4 separate regions of the Homo sapiens genome follow, and all the other regions are linked to region 3. Evidence: fine-mapped expression QTL. A gene starts in region 3. Each other region holds a variant in brackets. All regions are shown on one strand. Distances are between the middles of the regions.

What was found.
Region 1: its variant is fine-mapped to the expression of RNF216 in whole blood (TOPMed, PIP 0.98).
Region 2: its variant is fine-mapped to the expression of RNF216 in whole blood (TOPMed, PIP 0.93).
Region 4: its variant is fine-mapped to the expression of RNF216 in whole blood (TOPMed, PIP 0.93).

The regions. Positions count from the first base shown.
Region 1 is chr7:5,688,021-5,696,125 of GRCh38, reverse strand. The region is part of intron 13 of RNF216 (ring finger protein 216); the gene reads left to right. Among named protein-coding and RNA genes, the nearest start is that of RNF216-IT1, 12 kb to the right of the region's middle. RefSeq lists enhancers at 1-41, 671-910. The variant C/T (reference allele first, on the strand shown) is at 3,535.
Region 2 is chr7:5,811,033-5,819,137 of GRCh38, reverse strand. No RefSeq gene overlaps it. Among named protein-coding and RNA genes, the nearest start is that of RNF216, 33 kb to the right of the region's middle. The variant TATATA/A (reference allele first, on the strand shown) is at 3,694.
Region 3 is chr7:5,777,430-5,785,534 of GRCh38, reverse strand. RNF216 (ring finger protein 216) reads left to right here and starts at 3,872. Exons shown (of 17, transcript NM_207111.4): 1 at 3,872-3,994. RefSeq lists a silencer at 4,074-4,463.
Region 4 is chr7:5,799,188-5,807,292 of GRCh38, reverse strand. No RefSeq gene overlaps it. Among named protein-coding and RNA genes, the nearest start is that of RNF216, 22 kb to the right of the region's middle. The variant G/A (reference allele first, on the strand shown) is at 4,814.

The DNA.
Region 1 (8,105 bases), 89 kb after region 3:
CTGGATTTGTCTGGAGCTGGTGGCTGCTTTCTTGTCCTTCCGTGCCTCCTGGGAGTCAGGGATCAAGGCCGTGCTGGGTTGTGCTGAGAGCCACAGCCCCTCCTTCAAGTGGGGTACCCTCCCTTCCCAGCCTAGTCCTACATCCTTGTTGTGTGAGGAAATGAAGTCTGTTCCTTGGATGCGTTCTGACGGGAAACATGTTTTCTGTGGCACCTCTGCTTAGTCTTTCAGTGCAACACAAACAGCCTTTTGATACCTTGTTTTGTAAAAAGTACATTTCCACAATGGGGCTTGACACTGTTCATAAATAAACACATCCGTTTACAGGCAAAGCAAGGGAAGAACACATAAGGGAACAGTTTGACCAGGGGTTTTGCTTTTCCCTCTGTGAATGCCTGGTGTGCACCATCCATCCGAGGATGACTAGGGGAGAACACTATTCTGTGGCTGCCAAAACCACAACAAATGACAACTTTCCATTCTGTCATCTCTCTCGGCACCACTGCTAGCAAGCAATTCATTTTTCTACCATAAAAGGGCAATAGAACTTGTCTATAGCTGCGGTGTCTTCTGCTCTGCAGAGAGAGAGCAGGAGACCGGCAGGGAGAGGCACTCTCAGCAGTAGGCGCAACCGTGCTCACCCCGTGCCTAACAGCCTTGCTTAGTCCGGGCTCCGAGGCAGCAGCAGCCATAAGAAAAAACAGGAGAGGAAGGCGATGTGGCGCTTCTGCCGGGCCCTCAGACTGGGGAGTGTGAGGTCAGGACAGGCTGGCGTGTCGTTTTCGTCTCTGTGGCTGCTGGACGTGTGAATGTGTGGTTCAAACCTTGGTACAAGTTGCTGCACTGGGTCTGCGCAGGTGGTTTTGTATATTGGTATTTGGTACTCTTGACTTGCAGTTGTAGATGTTAGATTTATAAGCCGGACCCAGGAGGTCATATAACCCAGACATGCTTGTTGTACAGATGAAGAACCGTGGATAGGTTAAGTGCTAACTTCGTGTAGCTTGAAGTCATTGAACTTCTTGGCTATATATGAACTTTGGGTTCAGGGGTAGTTCCCTAACCCATCTGTGTCCCCATTGGCCCATTAGTGTATTTTTTGGCTCAGTTAAAGTTGAGCCACAGAAGCCTTAACTAATAGAAATACAGTTCTTAGTTGGTGGATTTGTATGTCAGTTAACCAGGGTCTTTGGAAAGTATATTGTCTTTTCTATAAAATGCTTGGGTCCTTTAGATGATTATAAATAAATGTTCAAAATCAAAACAGGAGTAGTTAGTAGACAAATGCTTAGCTATTTTGACAACACCTAGAACACTTTGAGAGAGTGGCTGTAAAATTTCTGCCCAGTGCACCCTGGCAGACCAGGAGACCAGCCCAACACAAGCTACGCAGCTACAGAGAATGTACTTTCCATAGGCTGAAGGGCATGGCCACCATACACATCTCTGCTCCAGGGCAGGCAGGTCCTCAAATTGCGCCACAAGTGGGCCTCATCCTTTGGCTTGGAGCCCTTGAAGGTTTTCCTATAAACAAGAACTGAGATTTGTTTTGTCGTTTAAACTTACCTTAATTCTGACTGTCTGATCTCATAGCAGATGTTGGAACTGAACTAAGCACATTGCCAAGGGAATAAAAATTGTGTCCAAGAATCTTGCTGATCTGGAAGTTTTGGAGGAAAGCAGGGATTTCAAGGTCAAATGTTATTACCCAGATAGTGCTCGTGGTCAGAATAGATTCTGAGCTCATTGGATCTGAATCAAAAGTTAACTCAGAAGTCATTCCTTAAAGAGAATATCATTGAGTAGCAGTGGCGGAAGCAAGCTCAGTGTGAATGATTCAAGTACTGCATACCTAGACCTTGTTTTGAAGCTGAAAGACTTGTTTGAAAACTGTTCCAGCAAATAAAGAAATTGAGTAGGCCGTCCTAAAATGGAAAGTTTACAAAATGCCCTTTTTAGTAAGACCTTTCTGGATTCTTCTTTTCTCAATAGTGTAAAACTGACTATCTTGATCTATCAAAGAGCTAAGTGGTATAATTTCCTTGGCACTTTCCAAGACCTTTACTGCCTTTGGAATAAACCCATGATGCCTGGGAGCATTCGTCTCACTGTGCTTCTCTCATGTTCTTTGCTTGTGGAAATGTTGGAAGCCTTTGTTTTTTTGGTCAACAACAGCAAGTGAATTCCATCTTATAGAACAGTTATTAATTTTCGTTGTGTCATTTTTAAGGCTGATTTCTTAAGCAAATAGCATCTCCTTGTTGGCCAGAGAGTCTCTACCCGCGTCCATCTCTGTCTTTGCATGCCTGGGCTGCCTGGCCATGGGTGACCAGCTTTAGAGACATCAGCCTTCTTGCTTCCTAATTTGGTCACAGTATGCTTCAGGCAGTCTTGCCTAACTTTAGAACAACACAAGCACAGGGAGCAGCTTTGATATAGCAAAGGGGAATTTCCTCTTATCAAAAGACCTACAGTTCCCTTCTTACTTCCTCTAAAAAGAGGAATTGACACTTGGGGAGGTTGTAGCTTGCTCTGAAGTTCCCTCTTTAAGCTTGGCTTCTTCATGCCGGCTTCTTCCTAGCTAGTTCCTGCTCTTTCCTTCCTCAAATGTCTTGGAGCTTCTTAGCATTAAAGGAGTTTAATTTTATTCTTAAGGAAATCCAATGCAATACCCATCAGCAGGGAACAATTTCAGTACATTTTGGTACCTCAGTACAGTGGAGGTCCATACCGGGGGGTCAGCATCCATACTGAGGTTCAGCAGACTTTTTCTGTAAACATCCATACCAGGGGTCAGCAGACTTTTTCTGTAAAAGGCAAGGTAGTAAATATTTCAGGCTTTGCGGACCATATGGTATCTATCCCAGCTACCTAACTCTGCCTTTATAGCGTGAAAGTAACCACAGACAATATGTAAACAAATGAATGTGGCTGTGTCCCAGTATAATTATATTTACAAAAATTGGCAGAGGGCCAGATTGGCCAGTGAGCTGTAGTTTGCCAACCCGTAGCATATACCATAGCGTTTAAAAGAATGACGTGGAATCCCGTTGTGCAAATATGGAGCTGTCTCCAAGATATTAAGTGAAAAAAGCAAGACGTAGAACAATGGGTGCAATATGCCCACAATTGTGTCTTAAATGGGAGGAGGAAGAGATGCTTGCTGACACAGACATAAAATCTATTTGGAAGGATAGATAAGAAATGGGTAGCAGTGAATCGCTTTTGAGGATGCTCACCAAGGGTTAAGGGAGGAGTGTGCATGTGTCACATTGTATACCCATTGTCATTAACTTAGTCATGTCTGAACATGAGCAAAAGAATTTTTGTTTTGTTTGTATTAAGAGAACTTGAAAAATAGAAATGTGATTATTAAAATATGCTTGTGTATTTTCAAACTCCAAGCTATTTCTTCTGGTGTGTTGGAAGGCTTATTTTACCACCTAAAAAGGAGTGCCTTGCCTCGGGCTGGAGGCGAGGGATGGCGTTTTGTGGTGTGTGGAAGGAGCTGGAACTGAGCAGCTCTGCCTTTCT[C/T]CTCGCTCGCCTTCTGCACGGGCTCTGCTTGCAGCACAAGCTCTGGCACTGTCGGACAGGATACAGCCAGTGAGAAACCTTGGACCAGAAGTCAGGGCCCCGCGGGAATTAGTATGGCTTTTAGTAGTTAGAATTCAAGACTGTTTCCAACTGCTGCCTTTTCCCACAGAGTATGTCTGACTAACAAGGATGGGTTCTGATTCACCCGGCGTTGCTATGACCGCTTTTTAAAAATGTCTGCTTTGGGTTGTGAAATCAGCAAATAAAGTTGTTACTTTCCTAGTATGTGTAACAGTTAGCTTTTGGTATGTGAGGAACAAGTAAAAGGCTTAGTGGCAAATCCTTGTCTGCTTAGAAGGCAGTGTACATATAAACAACTAAAAAATTCCCATTTGGCTGCCAGCCTCGATTCATAGTTCCCTCTTCCAGCTCCCAAGCAAATATTTTTCAAATAGCCGTGCTAAGCCTTTTCCAGGCATGATTTGCGGGCTTACTTGCTGTCATTCTATTTTTCAGCAAAACTCTGGGTAGGAATGTCGGAAATTATACCTTTTGAAATCCCTCCTTGAAAACATGGAGATTTGTAGGTATGCAGAGGCAATTGTAACAATATAAAGTATTGTATCTCTTCCACTAGAGTAGGAGGGCCTGACTGTCGGCCCCTGGGGTCTGTCTTTCATTACTTGTCTTGACTTCCGCTGTAAAAGCATTAAGTGGGAAGGTAGCAGTTCTGCTGAACAAGCAGACATTGCCTTCTGTAAGAGAAGTTATTTAAAACATCGAAAATATGTTTGAAAGATATTGGTGTAGTTTCCTCTGACCTCAATTTCATACACTAGTAACTCTCCGGTGTCTAGAGTTAGTACTGATGGACTCCCTGCCGGGTGGCCAGAACCATGTGTCCATGCCAGATAGAAGATTCTACTTCACTTGATTGAGGACGCTAAGAAGTTGTGCTTTGCCATACATGTTGCCCCTAAGGAGAAGCTGGGCATTTTAAAGAATAGACTTAAAACTAACACACATACTCTGTTTTTCTCACACACACATTCCCCCTCTCCCCTTCTCTTCTACACACACCAGCACTGCCTTCCCCACCCCCACCATAGCTCTCTCCATTACTGCCTTTAACCTTGAAACCTCTCTTGTACACTTACGCATTCATCTGTTCCTGCTCTTGTATCATTAATGGGCCTGGAGCAATCCAGCCAGGAGCAATCCAGCCAGAACAGGAACACTGACATTACTAATTACTGCTTATAACTGAGAAGTAAGGAGCAGTGAGTAAAGTGGGTCACAAGACAGTGTCCTAGCAGTCAAATGCTGCCGTCGGCCCGAGTGGCGAGGTGTCAGGTGGCTTGTCTCCCCTTCACCATGGGTAGACCTGGCAGAGCACCCTGTTGGCATGAGCAGAAGTGCTGTCACGTTGATCACCCAGGCTCACCGTCTACACACACGGTTAGAGAAATGGGTGTGCTTCTGTCGGAACTTAAAAACATGGCAGATCAACCCGTGAGAACAGAGTTCTTTGCACGGCTGTGTGAGCTGGGAAGAGACGACAGGCAGAAAAGGTGCTGCAGGGGGTGTGTGGAGGTGGAGCTTCAGCCTCTCCTGGCTGTGTGCTGGATAAGCCCTGAACCACAGGGTCCAAGTTGACTCATCTGTAGGTTGTCTTCAGCCCCCAAATCGCAATTCCATGATGAATGTGTACATTTTACACATGTGCGTATGTGTTATTAAGTGTCAGGCTGGTGTGGCAGAGCTGTCCTGGCAGAACATGCGTGTGTACATCCCTGCAGGCTGTCGGGGCATGAGCTCTAGTGTGGGCTGTATTGCAGGAGCATCAGCAGAGAAGGGCGAGATCTTCACTCTACCTCTCACTAGCCCTGGGCACTTCCCACTGCCTTTGTGGACTTCTGTTTGCTCTTCTGTAGAATGGGATAACAGTGCCAGTCCTGCTTACTATTTAGGGTTATGTGATGCTTGCAGATGTACAGGGAAAGCACTGCTGATGGGAGCTGCTGAAGTTTCTAGGGGAGGTGAAGGTGGCGCCTCCTCCCCTGGTCTAAGTGGTAGATGGTGCAGGGAGAGGAGAATTTCATTCTGTGGCAGCAGCTGATAGATTCCAGGTCTTTAATACTACCTGGGAAACCTTAACAAAGCAGTCAGTCACCAAAACTGACCTAGCTTCTGAGCATTGCTAACCATGCTTTTAGAGAAACAGGAAGTAAAAAGGATCTTTAAAATCTTTTTTTTTTTTTTTTGAGATGGAATTTCACTCTTGTTGCCCAGGCTAGAGTGCAATGGCGCGATCTTGGCTCACTGCAACCTCCGCTTCCTGTGTGCAAGAGATTCTCCTGCCTCAGCCTCCCAAGTAGCTGGGATTACAGGTGTGCACCACCATGCCTGGCTAATTTTTTGTATTTTTAGTAGAGACAGGGTTTCACCATGGCCAGGCTGGTCTTAAACTCCTGACCTCAGGTGATCCGCCCGCCTAAGCCTCCCAGAGTGCTGGGATTACAGGCATGAGCCACCCACCGCGCCTGGCCATAAAACCTTTAAAGATGTAAGTAAAATATAATACAGGTGAACTCGGCAAATAAGGGGGGTTACCTGCCCTCCTCTTCTCTTCTCTTTTCTGTTCTTTTTTTTTTTTTGTTTGAGACAGAGTCACCCAGGCTGGAATGCAGTGGCGCAATCTTGGCTCACTGCAACCCCCCGCCTCCTGGATTCAAGTGATTCTCCTGCCTCAGCCTCCCAAGTGGCTGGAATAACACCCAGCTAATTTTTTTGCATTTTTAGTAGAGACGGAATTTTGCCACGCAGGCCAGGCTTGTCTTGAACTCCTAACCTTAGGTGATCCACCTGCCTCGGCCTCCCCAAAGTGCTAGGATTACAGGCGTGAGCCACCATGCCTGGCCTTTGTACTATTTATTAAACTCTGCATATCTAAATGATTTTACTCAAGTCTATCATGTAATTACAGCCCTAAAACTACATTTCTTATGCTTTAAAAACTTGTAGGAAGTCCAAGAGAAAAGGAAAACTACTTGACTACAAGCCTAGGGTTTTTTGTTTTTTGTTTTTTTTTAGAAAATGGCCTCCAGAAAGTGGGAAATTATTGATCACTTGACAACAGAAGGGATGTGGGTTTCTAGGCGCCCTGCCTCCTCGGCTTTGGATGTTTTGCCTTTCACTTTTCTTCTTCTTTCTTTTTTTTTTTTTTTTTAATACTACAAATATGGTTATTGTTGAGAAAGTCTTGGAGTGAGTCATGGTTACAAAAACTGAGCGTAACTTCTGTCACTTTTCCTATACCTCACAAACTAGCCAAAATGCTGCCATATCAGCTTCTGGAGCCAGGCCTGCCCTTTGCCCCCGTCAAGCATCCACCTCCCCAGACCCTTAGCGCTGCACTCCAGGACCCCCTTCCACCTCCCTCCTGTGCTTTTGGTTCTGCATATTGGCTCACAAGGCACTGATGGTGGTGCCATATAATAGGATATCATTTTGTTTCACAGAATCGGCAGCCTGTTCTTTTATGAGAGAGGAAGCCACAGCAGAACCAAGTAAGATGCCAGGCTTCTCAGATCCACTTGAAGAAAAAGGAGTATTTCCTTTACCTAGTTTTGTGAATATTTTTCCCGCTTCTCTCATTCAGTCAACATTTGAGTTCAGACTTAAACTTTATATTGAAGAACACAGTGCTTTGCACAGTAATGTTAGTAGCTGTTATCATCATTTGGGAATTCGTATCATATTATTAAGAGCAACTCTTTCACTAATAAGAAAGCTAAATAAACTGAGAATTGCCCAATCCTAAGTCACCCACAGTTTTACAGATATCCCAGTCCAAAAAAAAATAAGACAAGCCTGATAATAAGTATGGATAAGGAAGTCTCCAGAAGATACACTGTCAGATGTGTAAAGCAAGGTAAGGTGCGCAGAGTGAGCCTTCTGCTCACTTTGTATAAATGTAAAGGATAAAGCTGGTAAATACATGCGCCTTTAACTTTTTTCTTCAAAACCTAAGCATGAAACACAAACTGCTACAGGAAGGCTTGACAAGAGGGGAGTTTTTGCTTTTTGTTTATAATAACTTCTGTATTTCTTAGCACATTCAGTATGTGTTCTTCTTTTCACTAGTGTCAACAGAGATACGAACATTTAAATTTTTTTAAAAAGCTTTAGGATAGAAAAGAGGTGTAGCTGGGCAATTTCCTTTGACATGCGGTTTGTCTGAAATAGAGCAGCCCCTTGTTTATGATTTCCAGATATGTGAGTCTGTTTTTTTATGTACAGGTTTTACCTTGGCTCAATTTACTGTCTAGTTACATTTTAACAGCTTTCTACTCTGCTTTTTCTCTCAATATAAAAGTAATCGAAAGAAGACTAATCATTTTTGAAATGCTTTCAGTTTTACACAGTTCTGTGCGTGAAAGCCTGGTGTCCCCACCAGCCAACTGTGGGAATCCAGGACATAGAGCAGGAATAGCTGCTGCTTATTTACTGCTCTAATTACCTCTTCGGTTCCATTTGCGGTCGCTAGTTCCTTCCATCAAGCAAAGTGA
Region 2 (8,105 bases), 34 kb before region 3:
AGGCAGGAGGACTGCTTGAACCCAGAAGGTAGAAGTTGCAGTAAGCCAAGATCATGCCACTAATCCCCAGCCTGGGCAACAGAGTGAGACTATCTCAAAAAAATAAAAAAGAAATCACCAGTGATTATTTCTCATAAAAAAAAATCCATGTGGCTCCAAAGAAGTCAGAAAACTAGACTCCCAAATGAGTGCTCTAGCTGGGCCTGGTGGTTCATACCTGTAATCCCAGCACTTTGGGAGGCTACAGTGGGAGGATTGATTGAGCCCAGTTCAAGATCAGCCTGGGCAACATGGCAAGACATCATCTCTAAAAAACGTTTTTCTCATGCCTGTAATCCCAGCACTTTGGGAGGCTGAGACGGGCAGCTCACGAGGTCAGGAGATCGAGACCATCCTGGCTAACATGGTCAAACCCCGTCTCTAATAAAAATACAAAAAATTAGTCAGGCGTGGTGGCAGGCGCCTATAGCCCCAGCTACTCGGGAGGCTGAGGCAGAAAAATGGCGTAAACCTGGAAGGCGGAGCTTGCAGTGAGCCGAGTTCGTGCCCCTGCACTCCAGCCTGGGCGACAGAGCAAGATTCCGTATCAAAATTTTTTTAAAATTAGCCGGGCATGCTGGCATGCACCTGTACTCCCAGCTACTGCAGAGGCTGAGATGGGAGGACTGCTTGAGACTAGGACGTCAAAGCACTACAACGAGCCATGATCATGTCACTGCGCTCCAGTCTGGGTAACAGAGCAAGACACTGTCTCAAAACAAAACAAAACAAAACAAAAAAACTGCTCTACCATCCCTAGAGCAGGTATGGTTCAAGATGGCCAGGTCTGTATTTCAGCCAGCAGTAAGAGGGGAAAAGGAAGGGACAGAATGCCCCCCACCCCAATTTTTTTTTTTTTTTTTTTGAGATGGAGTCTCGCTCTGTCGCCCAGTCTAGAATGCAGTGGTGGGATCTCCACTCACTGCAACCTCCACCTCCTGGGGTCAAGCAATTCTCCTGCTTCAGCCTCCTGAGTAGCTGGGATTACAAGCACCTGCCACCATGTCTGGCTGATTTTTGTATTTTTAAGCAGAAACAGGGTTTCACCATGTTGGCCAGGCTGGACTCGAACTCCTGACCTCAAGTGATCTGCCCCCCTTAGCTTCACAAAGTGCTGGGATTACAGACATGAGCCACCATACCCGGCCCAAATGCCCTTTCTTTTAAGAGCTTGATTCAGAAAAGGCACAAGTCACTTCTGCTCATATCCCATTGAACAGATCTCAGTTACGTGGCCACCTCCATCTACAAAGAAGGCTGGAAAATGGAGTCTCCATTCTGGGAGGGCAACTCCTAGCTAAAAATTGAAGGCTCTATTGCATTAGAAGGAGAGAACAGATATTGGGAAATAACCAGCGGTCTCCACCACAGGGAAAAGATAGGACGCAGGGAACGCCGGGGGGACAGGTGAAACAGACAAGTGATATTAACCAGGAGTTCCCTCCCACCTGAGTTAAACTACGCATAGTGTTGAAGTTAATGTTTTCATTTTCTCCCATTTCACCAAAGGATAAACCTTTGCTGTTCTAGGGATAGGAAAAGAAATAATAAGCAGTAATAGCTGCCTGGATATGCCGCATAGGGCTGGAGACAAAGGACTCTAATTGCCCTGCTTATTGGCTGGGCACGGTGGCTCACGCCTGTAATCCCAACACATTGGGAGGCTGACGCAGACCTCACTTGAGGTCAAGAGTTCAAAAACCAGCCTGGCCAACATGGTGAAACCTTGTCTCTACCAAAAACAAAGAAAAATAAGCCAAGTGTGGTGGCAGACACCTGTAACCCCACCTACTTGGGAGGCCAAGACAGGAGAATTGCTTGAACCTGGGAGGTACAGGTTGCACAGTGAGCCAAGATTGTGCCACTGCACTGCAGCCTGGGTGACAGAGCAAGACTTCATCTCAAAAAAAATAAATAATAAATAAATAATAAAAATACAAAAGTTAGTGGGGCGTGGTGGTGCATGCCTGTTGTCCCAGCTACTCAGGAGGCTGAGGCAGGAGAATTGCTTGAACCCAGGAGGCGGAGGTTACAGTGAGTCAAGATCGCACCACTGCAGTCCACAGAGTGAGACTCTGCCTCAAAAAAAAAAAAAAAAAAAAAAAAAAAAAAATATATATATATATATATATATATATCCCTGCTTATAGATGTTCATTTTTTCCATTTATTTGAAAAGCAGAATAAACGTATGTTGTAACAAATCAATGTAAACATAAAGTATCATCCTGCTACTATCAATCATATAAAGTCATACTAAGACATTCACATGCAATATGATTATTAATATCGTTGGTCCCACCTACTGGGGAGGCTGAGGCAGGAGAATCACTTGAACTTGGGAGGCGGAGGATGCAGTGAGCTGAGATTGTGCCACTGCACTCCAGCTGGAGTGACAGAGCGAGACTCCATCTCAAAAACAAACAAAAACACCCTTAGGTAATGATCACCAATGACTGCTGACATCTTTTTGAAAAAAATAAGAAAACCAGACACCCTGTCCATCTACATGGCTGTATACAACATCACCTATAAGTAATCCTGGAAAAAAAAAAGAACTTGAGTCTAAGCCTCTTGATCTAATTAACAAATTACAGGACATACAAGGCAGTAGAAAAATGTCAAATGACACCACAATGAGACAATCTGCAAAATCCAGGGTGTAACAAATTCTACACTTTTTTCTACAAATAAAATGCCAACAGAGAGAGGGAGGGAGGAAAGGAAGAGAGGGAGAAGGAATCTATGGATCACAAGAGAATGAAGGAAAATATCACTAGTGATATATGGATCCTATTATCTAAACAAGAGCTCACTGAACTTTCCAATTCATGTGCTTCCTCTTGTTAACCGCACTGGCTCATTCCGCGTCTTCTGTGCCATCCTGTTTCCACGTCTCCACTGGGAAAAAAATAACAGGAAAAATGGCATTTTATCAGGGGCATGTACTAGGAAGATGCTTAACATTGTCTCCATGGTTTGATATTTTATATTATATATAACGAATATATATATATTTATAATATAAAATATATTTGTATGTAAAATATAAAAATATAGATATATAAAATATAAATATAAAATAGGTCAGGCACGGTGGCTCACACCTGTAATCTCAGCACTTTGAGAGGCCAAGGTGGGTGGATCACCTGAGATCAGGAGTTCGAGACCAGCCTGGCCAACATGGTGAAACCCCCGTCTCTACTAAAAATACAAAATTTACCTGGGTGTGGTGGCAGGTGCCTATAATCCCAGCTACTCTGGAGGCTGAGGCAGGAGAATCGCTTGACTCAGGAGGTGGAGGCTGCAGCAAGCTGAGATAGCGCCATTGCACTCTAGCCTGGGTGACAGAGTTAAGACTCTGCCTCAGAAAAAAAAAATTATATATGTAATGTAAAATGTTATTTATATGTAATATATTGCATAATATATTTTATATGTAATATAAATGTTTATATATATTACATATATTGGCTCACTGCAACCTCTGCCTCCCAGGTTGTAGTGATTCTCCTGCCTCAGCCTCCCAAGTAGCTGGGACTACAGGCACACACCACCACACCCAGCAGATTTTCATATTTATATAAAAACATATAAATACAAAGCTATTTATATATAAATTACAAAATATATTTTATATGATATCGTTTGTAT[TATATA/A]TTTTATATAATATGGTTTGTATTATATACTATAATACTGTATATTATATAAAATGTTTTATATTATAAAGATCTTTACATCATAGTTCATATTATAAATATATAGTTTATGTCATATGTAATATGTAACGGATAATATCTTTTTTTTTTTTTGAGACAGTCTTGCTGTCACCCAGGCTAGAGTACAGTGGCGCAGTCTCCGCTCACTGCAAGCTCCGCCTCCCGGGTTCACACCATTCTCCTGCCTCAGCCTCCTGAGTAGCTGGGACTACAGGCACCCACCACCACCCCTGGCTAATTTTTTGTATTTTTAGTAGCGACGGGGCTGCACCGTTTAGCCAGGATGGTCTTGATCTGACCTCGTGATCTGCCTGCCTCGGCCTCCTAAAGTGCTGGGATTACAGGTAGAAGCCACTGTGCCCAGCCACATTTTTTTTTTTTTTTGAGAGTCTTGCTCTGTCACCCAGGCTGGAGTAAAGTGGGGCAATCTGGGCTCCCTGCAGCCTCTGCCTCCCAGGTTCAAGTGATCTCCCCACCTCAGCCTCCCAAATAGCTAGCATTACAGACATGTATCACCATGCCTGGCTAATTTTTTTTGTTTGAGACAGAGTCTCGCTCTGTCACCCAGGCTGGAGTGCAGTGGGGCGATCTTGGCTCATTGCAACCTCTGCCTCCCAGGTTCTAGTGATTCTCCTGCCTCAGCCTCCCGAGTATCTGGGACTATAGGTGCACATCACCACATCCAGCTAATTTTTGTATTTTTAGTAGAGATGAGGTTTCACCATGTTGGCCAGGATGGTCTCCATCTCTTGACCTGGCAATCTGCCCGCCTCGGCCTCCCGAAGTACTGGGATTACAAGCGTGAGCCACTGTGCCTGGCCATTTTTTTTGTATTTTTAGTAGGGAAGGGGTTTCACCATGTTGTCCAGGCTGGTCTTGAACTCCTGACCTCGAGTGATCTGTGTACCTCAGCCTCGCAAAATGCTAGGATTACAGGTGTGAGCCATCGCACTGGGCCTAAAATACATATTATATATTACATATAAATAATACATTTTTATATTCCAGTGTTTTCCTTTTCACTTTTTAGAAGCAGGGTCTCACTCTGTTGCTGAGGCTGGAGTGCAGTGGCGCGATCATAGCTCACTGCACCCTCGACTTTCTGGACTCAAGAGATCCTCCCACCTCAGCCTACCAAGTATATCTGGGACTACAGGCGCACACCACCATGCCTGGCTAATTTTTGTATCTTTTGTAGAGGCAAGGTTTCACTCTGTTGCCCAGGCTGGTCTTACACTCCAGGCTTCAAGCGATCCTCCTGCCTCAGACTCCCGAAGTGCTAGGACTGCGGGTGTGAGCCACCAAGATGAATTTCTTGATTCCTCCAAAAATATAAGCCATGGAGGCTCCTGACTGCCTGGTGGCTGCCAATGTTTTTTCAACAACCCCCTGCCCTTTTTTTTTTTTTTTTTTTAATCATAAGGCAGCCTCCTGTCTCCTCTGCAGAGCACCTGTTTCACCTCTGTATACAGGACACCTCCAGTGAGCTTTGTCCCCTCATGGTAGCCCTGAGAGAGCAACTAACCCTGTTCTGCACCTGGGGAAACTGTAGCCCAGATTGTTTAGCCAATGTTCAGTAAGTTAGTGGCCAGGTAGTATATTAGTCCGTTCTCGCACTGCTATAAAGAAATACCCTTCGGCCAGGCACAGTGGCTTACGCCTGTAATCCCAGCACTTCGGGAGGCCGAGGCAGGTGGATCACGAGGTCAGGAGAGAGAGACCATCCTGGTTAACGCAGTGAAACCCCGTCTCCACTAAAAATACAAAAAAATTAGCCGGGCGTGGTGGTGGGCACCTGTAGTCCCCAGCTACTCAGGAGGCTGAGGCAGGTGAATGGCATGAACCTGGGAGTCGGAGCTTGCAGTGAGCTGAGATCGCGCCACTGCACTCCAGCCTGGGCAACAGAGCAAGACTCAGTCTCAAAAAAGAAAGAAATACTCAGTGGCTGACGGCTATAATCCCAGCACTTTGGGAGGCCAAGTCAGGCAGATCACTTGAGGTCAGGGGTTCGAGACCAGCCTGGCTAACATGGTGAAACCCCATCTCTACTACAAATACAAAAATTAGCCAGACATGGTGGCAAGTACCTGTGGTCCCAGCTACTCTGGAGGCTGAGGCAAGAGACTCGCTTGAACCCAGGAGGCGGAGGTTGCAGTGAGCTGAGATCACACCACTGCACTCCAGCCTAGGCAACAGAGTGAGACTCGGACTCAAAAACAAAAACAAAAAAGAATAAATAAACAAACCCAAGACTGGGTAATTTATGAAGGAAAGAGGTTTAATTGACTCACAGTTCCACATTGCTGGGAAGGCCTCAGGAAAATTACTGTCATGGTGAAAGGCAAAGGAGAAGCAGGCACCTTCTCAGGAAGCAGGATGGAGTGAGTGCAAGCAGGGGAAATACCAGTGCATATAAAACCATCGGACACCTCAAGACTCACTATCACGAGAGCAGAATGGGGGAAACTGCCCCCACGATCCGTTTACCTCCACCTGTCCCACTCTTGACACGTGGGGATTATGGGATTACAATTCAAGATGAGATTCTAGGTGGGGACCCAAACCCTAACCATACCAGGTAGGGACTAGAAATCTGCTTCCCAAACTCCTACTCCAATGCTATGCTCTCTGGACACTGTGTCCCAGTCCTGGAAGGAAAGAGAACAAGAAACTCAGATGGCCTGGACTGAGGGCAAAGGAGGGTGAGGCTGGCACTGACATCCTCAGAGGCTCCTGCAGGGTCGTGTGTATGAAACCCAAGCCCAAGCTTCATGCCCTGCCCCCCAAAAGCAGGGAATGCACACTGTAGCAAATGCTAAGCCAGCTCTCTAGCACGTGAAACAGTCTTGTTCAGAGACAGGAGAGGCTGCTCTCCAGTGGTTCTTCAAGGCTGCTTTCTCCCTGCCTAGTCTGAAGGATTGCTTTCTCTTTTCTGCATTTAGTATTTTTGGACTGCGGTTGACCTCGGCTAACTGACTGTTAGTAAGAGGGGAAACCACTGTAGTTCAAAACTCCAGTCTTGGTGGGGCGCTGTGGCTCAGGCCTGCAATCCCAGCACTTTGGGAGGCTGAGGTGGGAGGAGCACTTGAAGCCAGGAGTTCCAGACCAGCCTGTGCAACACAGCGACATCCCATCTCTACAAAAAATGTAAAGATTAGCCAGGCATGGTGATGTATGCCTGTTGTCCCAGCTGATTGGGAGGCTGAGGTGGGAGGATTGCTTGAGCAAACCTCCTCTAAACCATGAGTTCAAGACTGCGGTCAGCTATGATTGCACCACTGCACTCCAGCCTGTGCAACAGAGTGAGACTCTGTCTTAAAAGTAAATAGGCTGGGCATGGTGGCTCACGCCTGTAATCCTAGCAGTTTGGGAGGCTGAGGCAGGAAGATCATCACATTCCCACTTCTGTCCTCATCGCCCATCCCTCACCTCCCTTCTCATCCTAGAAGAGCTAAAGGATTGCTTTTATTGATGAACTGTACATTGTATGCGAACACACAGGACCTCAGCGTGCAGTTTGATGGGTTTAGACACCCATGTAAATGAAACACAATCAGGATACAGCAGTGTCCATGCTCCCAGAAAGCTCCTTCATGTCTCTTTTCACTCAATCCCCTTCCCCTTGGACTGCAAATAGGAAAGGTTCTGATACGTCCCAGAGCACTCAAACTTTCTGGGTCTCTCTGCCAGCCAGCGGTTCTGGGCAAGCCATCTACCCATCAGACCATCAGGCCCCTGCGAAACAGCAGTCACCGGCCACTTCCCTGAAGACACAAGTAATCATGCTGTCCACTCTGCTAGCTGTCACCATGAGGTCGCCCAGGTCAAGCAGCAAGTATACTTTTTTTTAAAAAAACTTCCTCTGGCCGGGTGCGATGGTTCACGCCCGTAATCCCGGCACTTTGGGAGGCTGAGGCAGGTGGATCACCTGAGGTCAGGAGTTCCAGCACTGGCCAACATGGTGAAAATAAAAAAAATTAGCTGGGCTTGGTGGCACACGCCTGTAATCCCAGCTACTTGGGAGACTGAGGCAGGAGAATCGCTTCAACCTGGGAGCCAGAGGCTGCAGGGAGCTGAGATCACGCCATTGTACTCCAGTCTGGACAACAGAGTGAGACTCCATCTGAAAAAAAAAAAGAGAAAGAAAGAAAGAAAGAAAAGGCAAACTTCCTCTGAAACTTTTCACACAAAGCTTATTCTTCCTTCTCTGTCTGCACCCAAGACCTCACGCTCAGTTTATCCATGGCTAAAATCTATGGCAAAGCCAGCCCTGATCAAGAGGGTGAGGATGCCTGTAATTACCTTAGCAACAGAACATGCTGTGCATTTGAATCACATCATCTCATC
Region 3 (8,105 bases):
CAGTGAGCCAAGATCATGCCATTGCACTCCAGCATGAGCGACAAGAGTGAAACTCCGTCTCCAAAAAAAAAAAAAAAAAAAAAAGGCCAGAGGCTTCAAAAGTAACCAGAATGATTCCAGTTCAAAAGTAACCAGAATGATTCCAGTTCAAAAGTAACCAGAATGATTCCAGACAACCTAGAAGGAGGGAGTAGCTTCCTCTCGCCCTCACTGGGAAAAATGCAGAGATATGATAGTTGTCTTTATGACTCCGAAAATGCTTAAGACAAGAAGAGCATGTAAACAAATAACTCCTATGAGAGCTTCTCAATTCACACATGATCCCATTTCATCCTTGCAAGAACACCGGGCAATAGATAATATCTTAAAATTCCCATTTTACAAATAAAAAATTCCCCGCCAGACATGGCAGTTCACATCTGCCATCCCACCACTTTAGGAGGGCAAGATGGAAGGATCACTTAGAGCCAGGAGTTCGAGACCACCCTGGGCAACAAAGCGAGACTCTGTTTCTATAATTTTTTTTTTTTTTTGAGGCGAAGTCTTGCTGTGTTACCTAGGCTGGGGTGCAGTGGCGCAACCTCGGCTCACTGCAACCTCTGCCTCCTGGGTTAAAGTGATTCTCCTGCCTCAGCCTCCTGTGTAGCTGGGACTAGAGGCATGTGTCACCACACCTGGCTATCTATTAATGTTTTTTTAAATTAAACTTCAAAATAAAGGCCTGGCATGGTGGCTTACACCTGTAATCCCAGCACTTTGGGCTGAGACAGGCAGATCACCTGAGGTGAGGAGTTTGAGACCAGCATGGCCAACATGGTGAAACCCCGTCTCTACAAAAAATATTTTAAAAATTAGCCGGGTGTGATGGTGGGTGCCTGTAGTCCCAGCTACTTGGGAGACTGAGCCAGGAGAATCGCTTGAACCTGGGAGGCAGAGGTTCCAGTGAGGCAAGATCGTGCCACTGCACTCCAGCCTGGGCGATGGAAGGAGACACCGTCTCAAAAATAAATAAATAAAGACAAAAATAAAGTCTCTCTTCTCATTGCCATCACGTCTGAGTCAGAGTCTCCAAAAAGCCTGAACAAATAAAAAATTCCAGACTCAGGCCAGGTGCGGTGGCTCATGCCTGTAATTCCAGCACTTTGGGAGGCCAAGGCGGGTGGATCACGAGGTCAGGAGATCGAGACCATCCTGGCTAACACGGCGAAACCCCATCTCTACTAAAAATACAAAAAAAAATTAGCCCTTGGTGGCGGGCGCCTGTAGTCCCAGCTACTCGGGAGGCTGAGGCAGGAGAACGGCGTGAGCCCAGGAGGCGGAGCTTGCAGTGAACCAAGATCGCGCCACCGCACTCCAGACTGGGTGGCACAGCAAGACTTCATCTCAAAAAAAAAAAAAAAAAAAGCTAGACTCAGAGAGGTTACTCGATCGCACCTGCCTTGGGTGTGACACCAACCACAGAGGGGTTCAGTGGTCCGGAAAGAACCTTGCACTCCTGCTAAGATCACCAAGCTCTCCTTCCAATACTGCTTTCTTCCAACATCTCAAAGGGCTTATGAGGACCATCCTAAGAAGAAGGCTGTAACTGACAGCGATTATCCACCTCCCCCAAGAGGACCAGCATGGAGGATAAGCTCATCAAGGCCAATGCCTTTGTTTTACCTTCCAGGTGATTCCAGGATCTCATCTCAGGTAAGTATCTATCTTAAACTCTCTCTCCTGTTCACCCTCTAATGTCTCCCATGCACTGCACCCTCTAACTCAGGGCCTGACATCTGTAAGATCCCTAGATCCTCGTCCTGTTCTGTAAGCAGCCCTTCAATTTCTACTTCACTGAAACATGACTATTCCCTCAGGACACTGTTCCCCAAAGCACTATGAGTAGTGGTCTTTTTCTGTCCCATGCAAGCCCCCATAAGCCACACTCTACTGTCTTAGAGAAGGAACACTCATTGCCGCATCAAGACTATTGTTCCTCTCATTTCCCTGTTTTGTTTTTGTTTGCTTCTTTTGAGACAGGCTGTTGTTCTGTCATCCAGGCTGGAGTGCAGCAGTGCAATCATAGCTCACAGCAGCCTCGGACTCCTGGGCTCAAACAATCCTCTGGCCGGGTTTAGTGGCTCGCTCCTGTAATTCCAGCACTTTGGTAGGCCGAGGTGGGTAGATTACCTGAGGTCAGGAGTTCAAGACCAGCCTGGCCAACATGGTGAAACCCTGTCTCTACTGAAAATACGAAAATTAGCCGGGCGTGGTGGCACATGCTTGTAATCCCAGCTACTCAGGAGGCTGAGGCAGGAGAATCGCTTGAGCCCAGAAGGTGGAGGTTGCAGTGAGCCAAGATCGTGCCACCGCACTCCAGCCTGGCTGACAGAGTGAGATTCTGTCCAAAAAAACAAAACAAACAAAACAAAACAAAACAAAAAAATCCTCCCACCTCAGTCTCCTGAGTAGCTGGGACTATAGGTGCGCACCACCATGCCCGGCTAATTTTTATTTTTGTAAAGATGGGGTCTTACTCTATTGCCCAGGATCGTCTCAAACTCCTGGCTTCAAGCCATCCTCCCACCTCCATTTCCCAAAATGTTCGGATTCCAGGTATAAGCCACTATGCCCAGCCCAGACTCATTTATCTAATTACTGACTTGATATCTCTACTTGAAGGTGTACTTGGCAATTTTTTTTTTTTTGAGACACAGTCTCACTCTGTTACCCAGGCTGAAGTGCAGTGGCATAATCACTGCACTACAACCTCCCCCTCCTCGGTTCAAGCAATTCTTGTGCCTCGGCCTCCCGAGTAGCTCGGATTACAGGCACGCACCACCATGCCCAGCTAATTTTTGTATTTTTAGTAGAGACGGGGTTTCACCATGGTGGCCAGGCTGGTCTCGAACTCCTGACCTCAAGTGATCTGCCTGCCTCGGCCTCCCAATGTGCTGGGATTACAGGCGTGAACCACCACGCCTGGCCAGCAATTATTTTAAGAGTTGGGGTCTTGCTATTTTGCTAAGGCTGGTCTTGAACTCCTGGCCTCAAGCGATCCTCCTGCCTTGGCCTTCCAAAGCGCGGGGATTATGGACATGAGCCACTGTGCCCAGCAGGAGCAGTATTTTAGTCAGTTATTCACTTGCTCACTAAAACCTAAACTTCCTGAGGCCAGGAACACATTTTACTTTTTTTTTTTTTCGAGATGGAGGGTTGCTCTGTTGCCCAGGCTGGAGTGCAGGGGCGCCATGTTGGCTCACTACAACCTCCGCCTCCCAGGTTCAAGTGATTTTCCCGCCTCAGCCTCCTGAGTAGCTGGGATTACAGGCATCCGCCACCATGCCTGGCTAATTTTTTTATTTTTGGTAGAGACGGGTTTCACCATGTTGGCCAGGCTGGTCTCCAACGTCTGACCTCAAGTGATCCACCCGCCTTGGCCTCCCAAAGTGCTGGGATTACAGGCGTGAGCCACTGTGCCCAGCCATGGGACCCACTTTACTCTTAATTTCCCCAATTCCTAGAACAGTGTGTGGCCCACAGGAAATCCGCAGAATATATTTGCAGAATGAATGAATGACTTGCCAAACGAATTAGGGCAAATCAGTAGATATCGAGTAAACATCCACAACCACCTGCCCCATACCCTTTTCAGCTCTGGGGAGATGGTGGCTCCTTGTGGGGTCGGATATGGGGGTCTCCTTTCCTTTCACCCTCCTGCCTCGTGGGGGAGTCAAGTCTCCGCAGGCGGAGAGCCCGGATGCAGGCGCGACTAGGCGGCCCTCTCTATGGTGAGCCCCCCGGTCCCTCCTCCGCAGTACCCGGAGTGCCTCTATGGTTCTTCCTGTCCTTAGTCGGGAGGGGGCGCTGTGCGCAGGCGCGAGGTGACGCCGCGGCAGGGCCGGAAGGAGTGCAGCGGCTGCCACGGAGCTCGCAGCTGCGGCTTCTGAGGAGTAAGCGGCGCGGTAGCGAAGGCCGCCGAACCTGCCTGGCTAGCCGGCGACTTGAGTGACGAGTGAGTGTCGGCTGCGGGGCGCGCTCGAGCTCCTGGGCGGGTCTGTGAGGCGACGCGGCCTCTCTGAGGGGCGCCTCTGTGGAGCTCCGGGGGTGGGGGCGGGGGCGCGGGCCGTGAGGGCCGCCGAGCTGAGGGGCGCGGGCCGAGGCCCGGGCGGGATCGGGCCAAGGGGCTGGGCTGGGCGTCTCGAGCCCGGTGCGGTGGCGAGGCTGGAGCGACAAAGGCGCTGAGCGGCCGGGTGGCCCCCTCTCGCCACTTCGCGAAGTTTCGCGGGCCGGCCCCTCGGGTCTGCTGCGCGAGGGCAACAGCCCGGGAGACCGCGCTTCCCTCCCCCGGGCCCGAGGCCGCCGCGGAGGCGGTGTCCGTGCACCCGAGCGCGGCCTGGAGGAGCGGCGGGAGGCGGGCCGTGCCTGTGAACCCCAGCCCAGGCGGGCGGCGTTTTTCCTCCTCTTCCCTCACATCTGGAGCGCGTGTTCCGCGAAAGTTGGCGACTGTCACCCGGCACTCGCGAGGGCGCCGCAAGTGCGTCAAACCCTTCTGCGGGGCGCTGGGGGCTGGCCCGGCTCGGGTGTCCGGGCGCTGGGCAGCGAGCGAGGCCGCTGTCCCCGCGTCGAGGTGGTTCTGCTCCCGGTGGAACAGGACCAGGGATCCAAGACTCTGGGCCACTTGCAACCAACCCTGGAGCGTGCGCGGCGTGCGGGTTACAGAAATTTCTGACAAATCCGACAGGGCTCTGTAAATCCCTAAGGGCCTGGGTAGCAGCTGTCCTAGGTACTTAGATCGTGCAAAGAGAACGTTCTTTTTTCTTTTACTTTTTTTTTTTTCTCCTTTTCTTTGAGACGGAGTCTTGCTCTGTTGCCCAGGCTGGAGTGCAGTGGCGCGATCCCGGCTCACTGCAAGCTCTGCCTCCCGGATTCAAGCGATTTTCCTGCCTCAGCCTCACAGGGATTGCCTCAGCTGGGATTACAGGCATTTGCCACCACGTCCAGCTAATTTTTGTATTTTTAGTAGAGACGGGATTTCTCCGTGTTGGCCAGGCTGGTCTCTAACGTCTGACCTCAGGTGATCCCTCCGCCTCGGCCTCCCAAAGTGCTACAGTCTTTTCAAAAGACGTTTCAGATATGTTCTCCGGGACCCTCGGGCCCTTCAGTAAGAAGCGCCCTGGCTGAAAACCCACACGTTCACCTACAGAAGAAGCACTGTGACGTAGAGGGTGAGCAGAGCAGAGGGCCTCACAGTGGCCCTCACATGCACCTGGCTCCAGCCTGGCCAGGTCATTTTGCCCTGGTGGGCCTGTGCCTCAAAAATGGGGTTTCTTCCCTTGTGAGGAAGACCCATGAATTAGTAACGGAATTGCCAGGAATGCTAAAAACTATCTAAATGCCATGTATTGTTTTCAAGCTGTTACTCCTGGAAGGGGCTGGGTTGGCATTGTTTTAGAGGTTAGGAGCCAAACATCAGCTCATCTATTCTCCAGCTGTTGTTTGTCCTCCATCTTCCTGCAATAGTCAGGCACAGGGTCTTATAAAAATGGGTTTGTGCTGCTGTATGTTTCGGTGGGTACCTTTGTTTACTGAATGGGATGTAGGTGGGGGACCAGAGCATATCCGCGTCCCTCGGAAACAGTGGCGTTTTAGATGTAGTATGTCCCGTCAGCTCCTCTCTGCCCCACCCACCCCAGCCCATTCATTGAGCATTTTTTTTTTTTTTTTGAGGCGGAGTCTGGCTGTATTTCCCAGGCTAAAGTGCAGTGGTGCCATCTCTGCCCACTGCACCCTCCGCCTGCCAGCTTCAAGTAATTCTCCTGCCTCAGCCTCCCGAGTAGCTGGAATTACAGGCGCGCACCACCACGCTCGGCTAACTTTTTTTTTTTTTTTTTTTTTTAAGAGACGGAGTCTAGCTGTGCTGCCCAACTCCTGGGTTTAAGTGACCCTCAGCCTCCCAAAGCACAAGAATTACAGGCTTTAGCCACCGTGCTCTGCCAGAACATTCTTTACGCGCTGAGAAGGGAGAGAAGCGGGAAGATTCTATGAAACATCTCAATTTAGTCGGCTTGCTTTAAGGAAGAAGGCTAATACATGGCCTGGCTTTGCCTTGGTTTTGTATTTCATAATTTATTGCGCCTGGGGTGTGGGGAGTAGTGGTGGATTTGAGGAAATGCCTGGAGAGTCTGGGCCAGATTTTGGACCCCCTGGCAAACCTCATTCGAGGCTTTAGATTTTTACCCTGATTAGAGCAGCAGCAGCTAATAAAAGAGAACTCCTGAAGCCCCTGTGGAGAAATCTGATAAAGAAGGGTTAGGTGTGAGTGAGGCAGATCGAAAGTTGATGAATAGGATAGTTGAGAGAGCTGGTATTTGCTGATTCTACTACCAGCTACTATTTAATGTGTTTACAAAATTCTAGGCATTGCTATATTCTAGCTCTTTAGAGACATAATTCATTCTCATACCTGATATCATTATATTTGCATTATTGTTAAAGATAATAGAACATAGTTGGGAATGGTGTGGCTCACGCCCGTAATCCCAGCACTTTGGGAGGCCGAGGCGGGCAGATCACCTAAGGTCAGGAGTTCGAGACCAGCCTGGCCAACATGGTGAAACCCCGTCTCTACTAAAAATACAAAAATTAGCCAGGTGTGATGGCGTGCGCCTGTAATCCCAGCTACTGGGGAGGCTGAGGCAGGAGAATCACATGAACTCGGGAGGCGGAGGTTGCAGTGATCCGAGATTGTGCCACTGCACTCCAGCCTGGGTGACAGAGCGAGACTCCGTCTCAAAAATAATAATAATTTTAAAAAAAGAAACTGAGGTGCTGAAAAATATCTAGTCCCAAAACTTGTAAGGGTCAGCGTGGAACTTGAACTCAGTTTGGACCCAGAGTTCATGCCACTAATTATCCTTCTATAATTAGTGAGTGCTATTTATTCTGAAAGTACATCTACTATTGAAGATCATCTACTGTGCCATCCGATATGCTATGTCCTGGGGCTTTGGGATCAAGTGACACTTTGGTTCTGCCTTCTTGGAACTTAAGTTTTAGCAGAGGAGACCAAAATTACACATAGTTTCCTAAATAAGTATATTAAAGTATTGTTGGAAGTACTTTGAAGAAATGAGGTACGTTGTGTGATTGAACCAGGGAGGAACATCTAGGGGATAATCAGGAACAATTTTTCTCTGAGGAGAAAGCAAAGAACCGAACAATGAATAGAGTTAATTTGGTCCAAGAGGCAGTGAAGAAGAGTAGTTTAGCTGGGGAAGAGCCTGCAGTGGAAGGAAGGAGCAAGTCATGGAACTGAACCATTGTTACTACTGAATGGTGAATGCGGGGGGAAAAGGTATGAGGTAAGGCCCGCTATGTCAGCAAGGTCAGGTGATGGTAGCGTTTTGTAGGCCATGGTAAGGATTTCGGTTTCACCATGGTGAGATTTGTGGTTTAAAAGAAATAACTCAAATGCCGTATGAAAACATGTCAAGGGATGGAGCCTGCAAGGCAGTACTTGGGCTAGAAGCAGAAGCATGTCCTTTGGTCACAGAAGATTCAGTTCTAAAAAGATCGTTGAAAACGTTGATTTTACCCTCCACACATGAGGATGTACTTACTTATCTGTCCTAGTTTCTAAACTAATTTTCATTGGACAGTTGAAGAAAATCTTGATGTTTTATGTTAAATTGTTTAGCCCGCCCACTGAAGATTTTGAGTTTAATTTTTGATTTAAAACCTTTCCTATTGTAAAAATACACAGATAATAGGATTCTTAGAGCTGTTAAACTCTAGACTAATTGTTTGCATATTTATATCCATAATGATGGATGTTATTTTACCATATTTTGTCCACATATTAAAGTTAACACAATTTTCGTTTTCTTTCTCTGAACTCATCATCTGCTTTGTTCTTCCTTAATAGCATCACCATCCTGTGGTCACCTGATCTCAGCGTCTAGGTCAACTTTGATTCCTTTCTTCTTGCCCTGATGGCCAGTGACATACACAGATCCCATCGACTCTAACTCTGCAGTCAGTGTCTTGTATTCTTCTCCTCCCCCTAGGTACTGTTGGCTCTTGTTTCCTGGCACCGGTTGTCTCCTACATGCCATCTTACACAT
Region 4 (8,105 bases), 22 kb before region 3:
TGGCGGGCGCCTGTGGTCCCAGCTACTCAGGAGGCTGAGGCAGGAGAATGGCGTGAACCTGGGAGAAGGAGCTTGCAGTGAGCTGAGATAGCCACACTGCACTCCAGCCTGGGCGACAAAGTGAGACTCCGTCTCAAGAAAAAAAGATCTGGCTGTGCACAATGGCTCATGCTCAGAATCCCAGTATTTTGGGAGGTTGAGGTGGAAGGATTGCTTGAGCTCAAGAGTTTAAGACCAGCCTGAGCAATATAGTGAGACCTCATCTTTTTTAAAAAATAGTAATTTAAAACAAAGATTAAAACCTGCTCAGAGGAGCATTATAGAAGGCTTCTCCTCCCACCACACCTTACCACCACTCTCCCCCAGGTCTATCTATAGCAGCTCCTTTTACCCAATAAATTATGTCCAGTTATCGGGAAAAAAATTACAAGGCATAATAAAATGGAAAAAACATCCAGAAGCTTTGTAGATGATGTTTTTCTAAAAAGTCAGCCGGGCACGGTGGCTCACGCCTCTCATCTCAGCACTTTGGGAGGCCAAGGCAGGCGGATCACCTGAGGTCGGGAGTTCGAAACCAGCCTGGCCAACATGGTGAAACCCGTCTCTACTAAAAAAATACAAAAATTAGTCAGGCATGGCGGTGTGCACCTGTGGTCCCAGCTACTCGGGAGGCTGAGGCAGGAGAATCATTTGAACCCAGGAGGCGGAGGTTGCAGTGAGCAAAGATGGCACCACTGCACTCCAGCCTGGGTGACAGAGCGAGATGCCGTCTCTGAATAAATAAATAAATAAAGAGGTGGAGAAAGCCATACTGTGATAATACTAAACAAAGCAGACTTCAAAGCAAAGAAAGTTGTCAGAGCTTAAGAGGCATTACAGCCAGGTGTTCCATTCACATCGATAATCCCAGCACTTTAGGAAACCAAGGTGGTTGGGGGGATTGCTTGAGCCCAGGAGTTTGTGATCAACCTGGGCAACATAGCAAGACCCTGTCTCTACAATAAATAATAATAAAAAAAATCAGCTGGTCATGGTGGTGCATACCTGTAGTCCCAGCTACTTAGGAGACCAAAACTGGAGGATCACTTGATCCTGAGAGCTCCAGACTTCAGTGAGTCATGGTCACACCACTGTACTCCAGCCTGGGTGACAGAATGAGACCCTGTGTCCAAAAAAAAAGGGGGGGGCATTACAGAATGATAAAGGAGTCAATTCTCCAAAAACACATAATTAATCCCTAATGTGTATGCACCTAACAGAAGCATCAAAATACATGAGGTTAGAAGTGCTGGAACTAGGCCGGGCACAGTGGCTCACGCCTGGAATCCCAGCACTTTGGGAGGCCGAGAAGGGTGGATCACCTGAGGGCAGGAGTTCAAGACCAGCCTGGCCAACATGGTGAAACCCCATCTCTACTAAAAATACAAAAAATTAGCCGGGAGTGGTGGCAGGCACCTGTAATCCCAGCTACTTGGAAGGCTGAGGCAGGAGAATCGCTTCAACCAGGGAGGTGGAAGTTGCAGTGAGCTGAGATTGCACCATCGTACTCCAGCCAGGGCAACGAATGAAATTCTGTCTCAAAAAAAAAAAAAAAAGGGTGGAATGGCACAGAGAAATTGATAAAGTATGATGGTACTTCAAGACTTACTGTAAAGCTACGGTAATCAGGACAGTGTGATATTAGTGAAAAAATAGATAAATAGATCAATGAGCCAGGTGCAGTGTCTCACGCCTGTAATCCCAGCACTTTGGGAGGCCAAGGCAGGTGGTTCACTTAAGGTCAGGAGAATGAGACCACCCTGGACAACATGGCGAAACACTGTCTCTTAAAAAACAAAATAGATCAATTGAATAGAACAGAGATCTCAGAAACAGACCCACATAAATAGAGTCAAATGACCTTTGACAGAAGAGCAAAGGCAATACAATGAGCAAAGACAAAGACGGTCTTTTTAACAAATGTTGCTGAACAACTGGATGGACATCCACATGCAAACAACTGAGTCCAGACTCTGACCTTACACACTTCACAGAATTAATTCAGATGGATCAGAGACCTAAATGTAAAGTTCAAAACCATAAAACTTTTAGAAGGTAACACAGGAGAAAATCTAGATAACTTCAGGTTTGGCAATGACTTTTTAGATACAACGCCAAAGGTGGGATTCATGAAAGAAAGAATTGGGCTGCACGCAGTGGCTCACGCCTGTCATCCGAGCACTTTGGGAGGCTGAGGTGGACAGATAACCAGGGGTCGGGGGTTCGAGACCAGCCTGACCAACAAGGAGAAACCCCATCTCTACTAAAAATACAAAATTAGCCAGGTGTGCCGGAACATGCCTGTAATCCCAGCTACTCGGGAGGCTGAGGCAGAAGAATCGCTTAAACCTGGGAACGGAGGTTGCAGTGAGCGGAGATAGTGCCATTGCACTCCAGCCTGGGAAATGAGTGAAATTCCATCTCAAAAAAAAAAAAAAAAAAAAAAAAAAAAGAATTGCTAAGTTGGACTTCATTGAATTAAAAAATTTCTTCTTTCTGAAAGATGTTGTCAAGAGAATGAAAAGACAAGCCACAGACTGGGAGAAAATATTTGCTAAAGACATAGCTGATAAAGAAGGACTGTTAACCAAAATATACAAAGAACTCTTAAAACTCAACAACAGGAAAACAACCTGATTTTTAAATGGGCCAAAAAACCTTAAGAGACATCTTTCCAAAGATACACAGGTGGCAAACATGCATATGAGAAGATGCTTCATTTCGTATGTCATTGGGAAAATGCAAATTAAAACAATGATATCACTACAAACCTATTAGGATGACAAAAATCCAGAACATGGCAGGGCATGGTGGCTCATGCCTGTAATCCCAGCACTTTGGGAGGCCGAGGCGGACGGATCACCTGAGGTCAGGAGTTTGAGACCAGCCTGGCCAACATGGTGAAACCCCATCTCTACTAAACATACAAAAATTAGCTGGGCATGGTGGCAGGCGCCTGTAATCCCACTACTTGGGAGGCTGAGGCAGGAGAATTGCTTGAATCCGGAAGGCAGAGGTTGCAGTGAGCCGAGATCGCGCCATTGCACTCCAGCCTGGGGGATAAGAGTGAGACTTCGTCTCAAAAAAAAAAAAAATCCAGGACACTTGGCTGGGCGTGGTGACGCATACCCATAGTCCCAGCTCCTCAGAAGGCTGAGGCGGGAGGATCAATTGAGCCCAGGACGTTAGGGCTGCAGTGAGCTATGATGGCACCACTGCTCTCCAGCCTGGGTGACAGAGCGAGACTGTCTCAGTGGAAAAAAAAAATTAATGCTGTATGATTCCAACTATATTACATTCAGAAAAGGCCCAACTATGGAGACAGTAAAAGGATCCGTTGCTAGGGTCTGGAAACAAAAGGTTGCCAGGGACAACCTTTTGTCCCTGGGACGGATGCATGAAGGGAGGGATGCATGAAGAGGCAGAGCACGGAGGATTTTTCGGGCAGGGAAACGCCTCTGAGAGAGCTCTAAGAGTGGATGCATGTTCTGACACATTTATCCAAGCCCATGACATGCACCACACCAAGAGGGACCCTAATGCAAACTGTGGACTTTGGGTGAAAATGATGTCAATATAGGTTCCCTGATTGTAACAAATGTACCACTTTGGTGGAAGATGATAATGGGAGAGGCTATTAGCACGGGCAGGGAACATGTGAGAACTCTCTGTACCTTTCGCTCAATGTTGCTACGAATCTAAAACTGGCCTAAAAAAGTCAAGTCTATTAAAAAAAAAAAGACGCAGTGAGCATTGGGAAGAAAGGGACAGAGCACATGCCTTCCTCATGGAAATCATGCAAACATATATTAAAAAAAAAAGACACAGTGAGCATTGGGAAGAAAGGGACAGAGCACATGCCTTCCTCATGGAAATCATGCAAACATATATTAAAAAAAAAAAGACACAGTGAGCATTGGGAAGAAAGGGACAGAGCACATGCCTTCCTCATGGAAATCATGCAAACATATATTAAAAAAAAAAAGACGCAGTGAGCATTGGGAAGAAAGGGACAGAGCACATGCCTTCCTCATGGAAATCATGCAAACATATCTTCTGAAGAAGACCCCCCCTTTTTTTTTTTTTTTTTTGAGATGGAGTTTTGCTCTTTCACCCAGACTGGAGTGCAGTGGCATCATCTTGACTCACTGCAACCTTCAACCCCCAGGTTCAAGCTATTCTCCAGCCTCAGCCTCCCGAGTAGATGGGGTTATAGGCGCCCACCACTACGCCTGGCTAATTTTGATATTTTTTAGTAGAGACAGGGTTTCGCCACATTGGTCAGGCTGTTCTTGAACTCCTGACCTCAGGTGATCCCACCTGCCTCAGCCTCCCAAAGTGCTGGGATTACAAGCGTGAGCCACCGCAGCTGGCCAGACCCTACTTTTGAGTGGGGTCTTCTGCAGATGAGCCTGAGAAGGCCAGCAGGATTAGGTGACAAGGAAGAAGAGAGATCTTTGCATCTTCAGATGTAGGGGAGCACCGCCCATGGCAAATCTGAACATCAGCAGCTCCGGGCACCATAAAGTGGGCACAGGAAGATCAAAAGAGACTGAAGAATCTTTTTTTTTTTTTTTTTGAGATGGAGTCTAGTTCTGTCGCCCGGGCTGGAATAGAGTGACATGCTCTCAGCTCACTGCAACCTCCACCTCCCGAGTTCAAGCAATTCTCCTGTCTCAGCCTCCTGAACAGCTGGGATTACAGGCATGCATCACCACACCGGCTAATTTCTGTATTTTTAGTAGAGATGGGGTTTCACAATGTTGGCCAGGTT[G/A]GTCTCAAACTCCTGGCCTCAAGTGATCAGCCTGCCACAGCCTCCCAGAGTGCTGGGATTACAAGCTTGAGCGACCATGCCCAGCCCAAAAGAGGCTGAAGAATCTTAACTTCTAAATTTTATTGATTTAATTACTGTTTGAGTCAGGGTCTCACTCTGTCTCCCAGGCTAGAGTGCAGTGGTGCAATCATAGCTCACTGTAGCCTCCAACTCCTGACCTCAATCAATCCTCCTGCCTTAGCCTCCCAAAGTGCTGCACTTACAAGTGTGAACCACTGTGCCCAGCCCTTAATTTTTTAAAAAAGCTTATAAATCTCAGAAAATATTTCTTTCCGGCCAGGCGTGGTGGCTCACACTTGTAAGCCCAGTACTTTGGGAGGTGGAGGCGGGCGGATCACCAGAGGTCAGGAGTTCAAGACCGGCCTGGCCAACATGGCAAAACCCCGTCTCTACTAAAAACATACAAAAAAATTAGCCGGGCATGGTGGTGGGCACCTGTAATCCCAGCTACCTGGGAGGCTGAGGCACGAGAATCGCTTGAACCCGGGAGGCAGAGGTTGCAGTGAGCCAAGATCGCATCATTGCACTCCAGCCTGGGCAACAAGAGCGAAACTCCATCTCCAAAAAAAAAAAAAAAAAGGAAATTATTTATTTCCAACAGGAGAGAGCCTAGCACTTATAGCAAAGTGTTGAGCATGGATTCGATTACATAGCATTGGATCATGGCGGGTAACTACAAGAGAAGCAACTACAGGGTTGTGAGGGGATGAAAGAGCCAGAAGGAACCGATCTCAAGATGCGTATGAGAGCCTTAATCCACCGGGCACGGTGACTCATGGCTGTAATCCCAGTACTTTGGGTGGCTGCGGCAGACAGCTCACCTGAGGTCAGGAGTTCAAGATCAGCATGGCCAACATGGTAAAACCCCATCTCTACTAAAAACTACGTTGGGAGGCCAAAGCAGGCGGATCACAAGGTCACGAAATCAAGACCATCCTGGCCAACATGGTGAAACCCCATCTCTACTAAAAATACAAAAATTAGCTGGGCGTGGTAGCACACACTGTAGTCCCAGCTACTTGGGAGGCTAAGGAGGGAGAATCACTTGAACCCGGGAGGTGGAGGTTGCACTGAGCCGAGACGGCGCCACTGCACTCCAGCCTGGCAAAAAAACTACTCTATCTCAAAAACAAAACAAAACAAAACTACAAAAATTAGCTGGGCGTGGTGGCATGCACCTGTAATCCCAGCTACTCAGGAGGCTGAGGCAGGAGAATCGCTTGACCCCAGGAGCCGGAGGTTGCCGTGAGCTGAGATCACGCCACTACACTCCAGCCTGAGCAACAAGAGCGAAACTCTGTCTCCAAAAAAAAAAAAAAAAAAAAAAAAAAAGGAGCTTAAAACCAATAGCCAAGGGAGTTACAGTCACCAGATATTTAGTTCTCTATAGAAATTAAAGATAACATCTTGGGCCTGGTACGGTGGCACACACCTGTATCTCCATCACTTTAGGAGGCCGAGGCGAGCGGACCGCTTGAGCTCAGGGGTTTGAGACCAGCCTGGAAAACATAGCAAGACCCCTGCCTGCACTAAAAATACAAAAAATTAGCCAGGCGTGGTGGCACATGCATGTGGTCTCAGCTACTCGGGAGGCTGAAGTGGGACAATCACCTGAGTCCAGGAAGTGGAGGCTGCAGTGGGCAGATTGTGCCACTGCACTCCAGCAGCTGGGAGAAGAGAGTGAGACCCCATCCCCCAAAAAAAAAAAAAAAAAATCAATGAGAGGAAACAAGGACCGACTTTCATGGGGTCCAGATGCCTGGCACAGTGAGGCCAACCACCCACACCAAGGTTTGCAGTGAGAAAAAAGAGGGCATTTATTTGCAGGGCGCCACGCAAGGAGAGTCGAGCAGCTCATGTTTACATCCAGAACTCCCTGCTGGCTTGCAGGTAGGCGTCTTTAAAGGTAAGGAGGCAGAGGCAGGGCGCAGTGGCTCACGCCTGTAATCCCAGCACTCGAGGCGGGTGGATCACAAGGTCAGGAGATCAAGACCACAGTGAAACCCCGTATCTACTTAAAAAAAAAAAAAATACAAAAAATTAGCCAGGCATGGTGGCGTGCGCCTGTAGTACCAGCTACTCGGGAGGCTGAGGCAGGAGAATAGCGTGAATCCAGGAGGCGGAGCTTGCAGTGAGCCGAGATCACGCCACCGCACTCCAGTCTGGGTGATAGAGTAAAACTCTGTCTCAAAAAAAAAAAAAAAAAAAAAACAGAAGATAAGGAGGCAGAGGTTACGGCAAAGTCATAAATCAGTATGGAGGCTATACGTTGGTTTGGCCCTAAAAGGTGGGGTATCTTAAAGTGGGGGCTTACAGGTCATAGGTAGATTCAAAGATTTTTTTTTTTTCTAATTGGTTAAGGAAGAGAAGCTTTGTTTAAAAATGTGGAGTTGGCGGGCGCAATGGCTCACACCTGTAATCCCAGCACTTTACGAAGCCAAGGGGGGGCGCAGACCACCTGAGGTCAGGAGTTCAGGACCAGCCTGGCAACATGATAAAACCCCATCTCTACTAAAAGTACAAGAATTAGGTAGGATGCGGTGGCGGGTACCTGTAATCTCAGCTACTTGGGAGGCTGAGGCAGGAGAAAAGCTAGAACCTGGGAGGCAGAAGTTGCAGTGGGTCAAGATCACAGCACAGCACTCCAGCCTGGGCGACACAGCAAGACTCTGTCTCAAAAAAACAAAACAAAACAAAAGGACAGCACTCGGAGAGCTTCAATGCTGAACATGTGGAGATGCCGGGAGGGTGGTGTACCCAGAGAGGGCATGGAAGCTCCACCCCTTCCCACAAAACTTGCCCCTTCGGCCTCGGCATCTGGCCATTCCTCTGCATTTTTCGTAATGCCCCTTATAGTAAACTGGTAAACAGGCCGGCCATGGTGGCTCACGCCTATAATCCCAGCACGTTGGGAGGCTGAGGCGGGCGGATTACTTGAGGCCAGGAGTTCAAGACAAACCTGGCCAACATAGCAAAACCCCGTCTCTACTAAAAATACAAAAATTAGCCAGGCGTGGTAGCAGGTGCCTGTAATCCCAGCTACTTGGGAGGCTGAGGCAGGAGAATCGCTGGAGCCCAGGAGGTTGGTTGCAGTGAACCGAGATCACACCTCTGCACTCCAGCCTGGGCGACAGAGCAAGACTCCGTCTCAAAAAAAAACCACAAAAATTGCTTTGTGTTAAGTATAGAGTGGTGTGAGAGTAGAAAACACACTTTGGTCTTATTTTATTTT